Regions from separate parts of the Homo sapiens genome. Here region 2 is linked to region 1. The links come from fine-mapping of genetic effects on gene expression. A gene starts in region 1. The other region holds a variant in brackets. All regions are shown on one strand. Distances are from middle to middle.

Region 1 (2,911 bases):
CACAAACTGAGGGAACTGTTACCGATTTCTACAGAACCTTCCAGGTTCAGCATTCTATTAAAAAGATTTCCTAGAGTTTGTATTGTAAACATTTAACCACTTAGGACAATTTGAGTCATTACTCGTGTCTGGTACAGAACATCAGGCCCCTGGGGTCTTGTTTTGAAACTCAAGTTGGCCAGCCTTTCACCTGAAACAAACTTCTTACCTTTTGGGGGAGAATAAGCATTTTGTTCCCCAAAAAAGCATTTGGAAAGCATTTGTTATGAAGTGATCATGCACCAATCCTTTATCTTTCATCAGTAATAGTATATTTCATTAATCAGGCCTGCCCAGACCAGAAATTACTTACCCACAAACACTTTACAAAGCTGCATGCCTTCTCGGTGTTTGGATTTGATGTCCTGGTTGTATGACAATATAGGAAACGTATTAATTTAACTTTTTTATTCACTGAGGAAAATTTCTACCCCTCTTAAGTGAAGACTTCACTCTAGCTAAGAGAAGTACTCGGGCTCCACCTGTTTCGCCTAGCTACAACACTCATTCAGACCCTCGGCAAACCCAGCTCTAGCAATATCACGCCAGGCTAGGTGGACAGGAATGCACCAGTGCTGTTGGAAATTAAAGTTGATGGGAGTTGCATTCTAATCCGGCCAGAGCTGCGCCTGCCGGGTGCAACCGCGGCGCGGCCGGCGCTGTCGGTCTCTGTCTCACGGATGGTGAGCTGACAGCTCCTGCCAGCCCAGGCGGGGAGGAGGAGAAGAGGTGTCCGCTGCAGCCGCATACCCGGCGGGTGAAAGCACCGTCTTGTCCCCAAAGATTCCTCTGCCCTCAGAGACTAACAAAAATACGGTGTCCTGCGTTTCGCAGAAGGACGGGAGGCGTCCCAGAGCTCTCCCGGGAGAAAAACCCAGGGAGAAGTGGTGGTAGGAGGCGCCCGGTCCCGCAACTCACCTTCTGCTGCCTCCGGGCCATGTCGGTGGGCTGCTTGGCGTTGAAGGGGTACGCGATGCACCTCACGACGAAGACGTAGAGCTGCAGGCGGATCCTCCGCTCCTGCTCATCGTCCAGCTGCCGCTGGGGCTCGTCTCGCCCCTCGCTGAGCACAGAGGGGCTCGGGCTCACAGATCTGGCCGCGCCGCCGCCGCCCGCGCGCCCCGGCGCGTCCCGCCGCCCTTCCCGAGTCGGGGCTGGAGGAGCTCGCTGCGAGCTGCCGGCTGCCACCAGCACATCGCGGCTTTCCTCTTCCAGCCCCTCGTCCGACTCCTCTTCGCTGGAAGACGGGTCCAGCATGGTGCTCGGGGATCCCCGCCGCTCGGCCCGCGGTCCCCAAGCGCCTCACCCCCGGCGGCTGCGCCCGCGGGTCTGAGGGAGCCGCGGGGCTGGCTGCAGCGGCCGCAGAACGAAAGGAAAACTGGCCAGGGCTTTCCGGACACGTCGAGTTAGATTCAGGAGTGTTTCCTACCACCAGGGCGAAAGGGGCGGGCAGGAGCCGGGAGGAGGATTGGGAGGGGGGAGAGGGGGAGCCGCCGGGACTGAATAGGCGGAGTTAGCGTTGGGGGTGAGCTTGGGCGCCTCAGGAATTGCTCCGCCAGCCCCGGGCGCGCCGACCCAGCGGTTCCCCAGAGCCCGCCGGCAGAGGCGGAGCCGCCCGAGCGCCCGGACGCAGGTGGGGAACCTGTGGCGCCTACAACAAGCAACACGTGGAATTGAATGTTGAAGAGCCGCGCGGGGCCGCGGAGTGCGCGTGCGCGCGCCGCCGCTGCTGCCCGGGCCCGCCTGGAGCCCTAGCACACAGTTTGCAAAGGCGGGGAGCGGCCGAGCGCGATGGCCCGTGTAAGCGTCCACCGGGGCTGCTCCGACTACCCTCACCCTACCACCTGTGATCTTTTCTCCAGCAGGTGGAGGTGGAATGGGGAGCGGGGAGGGACTGTTCCCTAGCAAGAGGTTAGGGGGAGCGGCCGAGACATCTCCCCAACCCGAATCGGCTGCCTAGGATTGAACCCCAGCGCGGAAAAGCGGGACTGGAGCCCTTCACCACGAAGTATCTTTGCGACAAGACTTTGAAAAGTCTCACTCTGCTCTGCTGCCGTTTTGATACTCATGCTGAAGCCCAAATTATAAAAGTCGGAGTAATGAAAAAAAAAAGAAAACCAACGAGGCTTACTTTTTAAACTGTTCTAGTCCTGCAGACTCAAGGCAAGAGAGATTTTATATGTGCAAAATGATACTGATTCAGCTCAAACATATCTCGATTATTTTCTGGGTTGGGATGCAGTTGACTCAAAACAGGTTGTGTAGTGTGGACATTTATTCAACAAAGATTTGAGCGCCCTCCCGGTGTCCAGCACTGTTAGCCTTTTGCGGAGCCCGCGGTGACTAAGGCACATGACACTCAGTCGCTGGTGGTTCTGGCCTCAAGTCGGCGTCTTGTAGCTGCGCTGAAGCCTGCCTTATCTGCGCAGATTTCTCAGTCCTAGTGCTGGAACCACCTAGGAGTTTCTTATAGTAATTCTGTATCTTATGTCCTAAGTCCTGACAGAGGGGGAAATAGGCAAAACAATGCATTCAACACCAGGTGGAGTGTGCAGCGACCAGGTGGGCAGGGAGGTGATGAAGTTCAGTGGAAATAACACAGGGCAAATTAACTACCAGCTCTGAGCTCCTCTACCACCATGGTCAAACAGCAGTTTTAGCTTTTTCAGGCCACTTTCATATAGTTAGGTACACAAGAGAGACTTCTGCACTTACTGACATTCTCTCTAGATGGGTAAAAGACAAGGAGGCATTTACTCCTGAGGAGTCTTACCTATTTTTCTGCCTAATCCATAACAGGCCCCCTAGTAATAAAAGGTCTTCAGTAAGAGCATGGCTGTGGGATGATCACAAACTGCCAAGAAATAGAAAA
Region 2 (2,911 bases), 260 kb before region 1:
CTTACCATATTGGTATTCTCTCTTCCTTTCAATTCAAATATGCCTTTGAGTGGGAGAAAAGGGAGGGAGTCTACAAATAATTCAAGAATTCTTCACAGCCCCAGATTTCTCACAAATATGCCAGCATGTAAGACTCAGTCATTTGATAGACATTCCCTGAGTGTCTGCTATGTGTTCTGCTCCAAGCCCCTGGATAGAACCATGAAGATAATGGACAAAGTCCTGATAGACTTAGTAAACAAGGAAATAATTTCTTCTGATAGAAAGTCATAAGTGGCATGGAGAAAAAGTCTAGAAGGAGGAACACAGAGTGAGTGGTGAGAAGGGTTGCAGCTTTAAACGGGGTGGTAGGGGAAGGTCTCAATGAGCAGATGATGCCCTTTGAGCTAAAAGTGGATAAGGAAGTATGATGATTAATTATTTTTTTTTTTTTTGAGACAGAGTTTCGCTCTTGTTGCCCAAGCTGGAGTGCAATGGCACAATCTCGGCTCACCACAACCTCCGCCTCCCAGTTTCAAGTGATTCTCCTGCCTTAGCCTCCTGAGTAGCTGGGATTACAGGCAGGCGCCACCACGCCCGGCTAATTTTGTATTTTTAGTAGAGACGGGGTTTCTCCATGTTGGTCAGGCTGGTCTCAAACTCCCGACCTCAGGTAATCCGCCCGCCTCAGCCTCCCAAACTGCTGGGATTATAGGCATGAGCCACCGCATCTAGCCCAATTAATTTTGTTTGTCAGTCTGGCTAGGCTATGGTGCCCAGTTGTTGGATCAAACATGAATTTAAATGTTGCTATCAAGATATTCTTTAGACGTGAATAACATTTACAATCAGTAAATTCAGTAAATCGGATCACCCTCCTACATCTGTAGGTAGGTCTCATTCACTCAGCTGAAGGATTTATGACCAAAGGCGAAGGTTTCCTAAAGAAGCAGCAATTTTGCCTCAAGACTAAAACACAGAAACCCTGTCTGAGTTTCTCACCTGCCAGTCCGCCCTACAGATTTCAGACTTAAGACTGTAACATCAACCCTCACCTGAATTTCCAGCCTGCCTACTTGTCCTATGGATTCTGGACTTGCCAGTGCCCACAGCCGTGGGAGCCAATTCCTTGAACGCAATCAATCTCTCTCTCTCTCTCTCCCTGCCCTCCCACACACACACACATATATATACACACATAACATGTATGTATGCATAACATCTACTTTTTAATATTATATACATATTTATTATATCTACCTAGATATTGGTCTAGATATATGAAAATACAGATATAATCTCCTATTGGCTCTGTCTCTCTGGAGAACCTGACTACAGCAGGGAGAAAGCCATGTAAATGTCAGTGGAAGTTCGCTGCAGGTGAAGAGTCAGGGCCAAGACCCTGTGGCAAGGAAAGGCAAGGAGGCCACCATCGCCAAAGTGGATTGAGCAAGGGCAAGAGTTTAGTGGAGGATAAAGTCAGAGGGGTAAAAAAGACCAGATCACACAGGACTGGGGTAACAAAGACCAGATCACACAGGACTTTGCAGGCCATTTTAGGAACTTTT[C/CT]TTTTTTTCTCAGCAACATAGGGAATCATCACAGATTTAGTGCAGAACATCACTGGCTGTTGTGTTAATGAGGACAGGGGTAGAATCCAGGAGACTGGCTAAAAGGACAGAACAATGATCCAGACAAGAGACAAAGATGAATGGACCACAGTGGAAAGGGAAGGATGGTAACAACTGTCACATTCTGGAAATACTGTGAAGGTAAAGATAAAGGATTTCCTGATAAGTTTTGCATGAGGTATGAGAAAAAGGAGTCAAAGATGATTCCAAGTTTTTTGGCCTGAATATCTGGAAGGATTGTACTATCAAGAACTGGCCTGCCCTGACCACTTGACTGAAAACTGTAACCACCCACCACCTCTCTCCTACACTCCTCATCCCACTTTTTCTGATCTATTTTCTAAGTAACAATGATCACCTTCCATAATTCAATTACACGGCATGTTTACTCCTTATTGTGGGGCTATCGCAAATAAAATGTAAGCTCCACCAGGGCCTGGCAGAAATATTTTTGTCTCATTTTATCCCAATGTATCCCAAGTAGCTAAGACTGCACCTGGCTGTATAGTTGGTGTTCAATAAATATTTGGTCAATTAATTTGTGGATAGAAAAAATGAGGCTCGAAAGTGTTAAGTAACGTGCCTACTATTATGTTTAGAAAATAGCTATCATGAATTTGGTCACAGGTCTTTCTGGCCCTGTACACATTTTGTTCACTACTTCCTAATTACCTCTTGGCTGAAGTACTAAAGTCAACATGTCTCTTGAAACAGAGATTTTGCCCTGTAGTTTCACTGTTATTATATTGTGTTGTTCTGTGAAGTGTGGGAGGGGGTGTTCCTGAATGCCAACTAATAGCTGTTTATTAACCACTCTTCTGGAATGATCAGATTGCAGAGGCAGCAGGATGTTAAGAGAGCGAGCCCAGGCTCTGGAAGCAAGGCCAGGATTTGAGGCCTGCCTCAGCCACTTATTTGTTATGTAATCATGGTGAAATAAATAATCTTGTCTAAGCCTCAATTTCCTCTTCTATAAAATTGACTTCATGATATCATCTGCCCTTACAAGGTTTGTAGGATTATTGTCAGAAAATAATTCAGCAAGGTCAGTCAATTGTTATTAGGCTTAAAAATATTTCATTAAGACGGCTTCACTTTGGTGAACTTGAAGTGGAAAGCAATTAAACCTGCTCAATCTATGTCAATATTTTCATCAAAAGGTATCCTATTTTTAGAGGTATATTTTGCTTTCCAACCCCATCAGCTTTACTTCTTTCTCCATGTTTTTTCCACTCTATCAACATCTCTGATGAAACCATTAGGGTTCTCTCAAGGAGAAGCCTTTGTGTGTTCATCACTAACCC

Alleles and levels. Positions count from the first base shown, and alleles are read on the strand shown. Sizes are in standard deviations (SD) of each study's normalised expression.
As copies of CT replace C in region 2, the expression in pancreas of the gene that starts at base 1,419 in region 1 goes up (small effect, 0.32 SD a copy in GTEx).

Evidence for each region. PIP is the estimated chance that this variant, and not a neighbour inherited with it, causes the effect.
Region 2: its variant is the best candidate, but not a certain one, in a credible set for the expression of CADPS2 in pancreas (GTEx, PIP 0.51).

What each region holds. Positions count from the first base shown.
Region 1 is chr7:122,885,042-122,887,952 of GRCh38, forward strand. CADPS2 (calcium dependent secretion activator 2) reads right to left here and starts at 1,419. Exons shown (of 30, transcript NM_017954.11): 1 at 958-1,419. The coding sequence starts at 1,296. RefSeq lists an enhancer at 707-756 and silencers at 1,117-1,246, 1,287-1,336, 1,347-1,426, 1,497-1,656, 1,667-1,826.
Region 2 is chr7:122,624,634-122,627,544 of GRCh38, forward strand. The region is part of intron 4 of CADPS2 (calcium dependent secretion activator 2); the gene reads right to left. Among named protein-coding and RNA genes, the nearest start is that of RNF133, 73 kb to the right of the region's middle. The variant C/CT (reference allele first, on the strand shown) is at 1,548.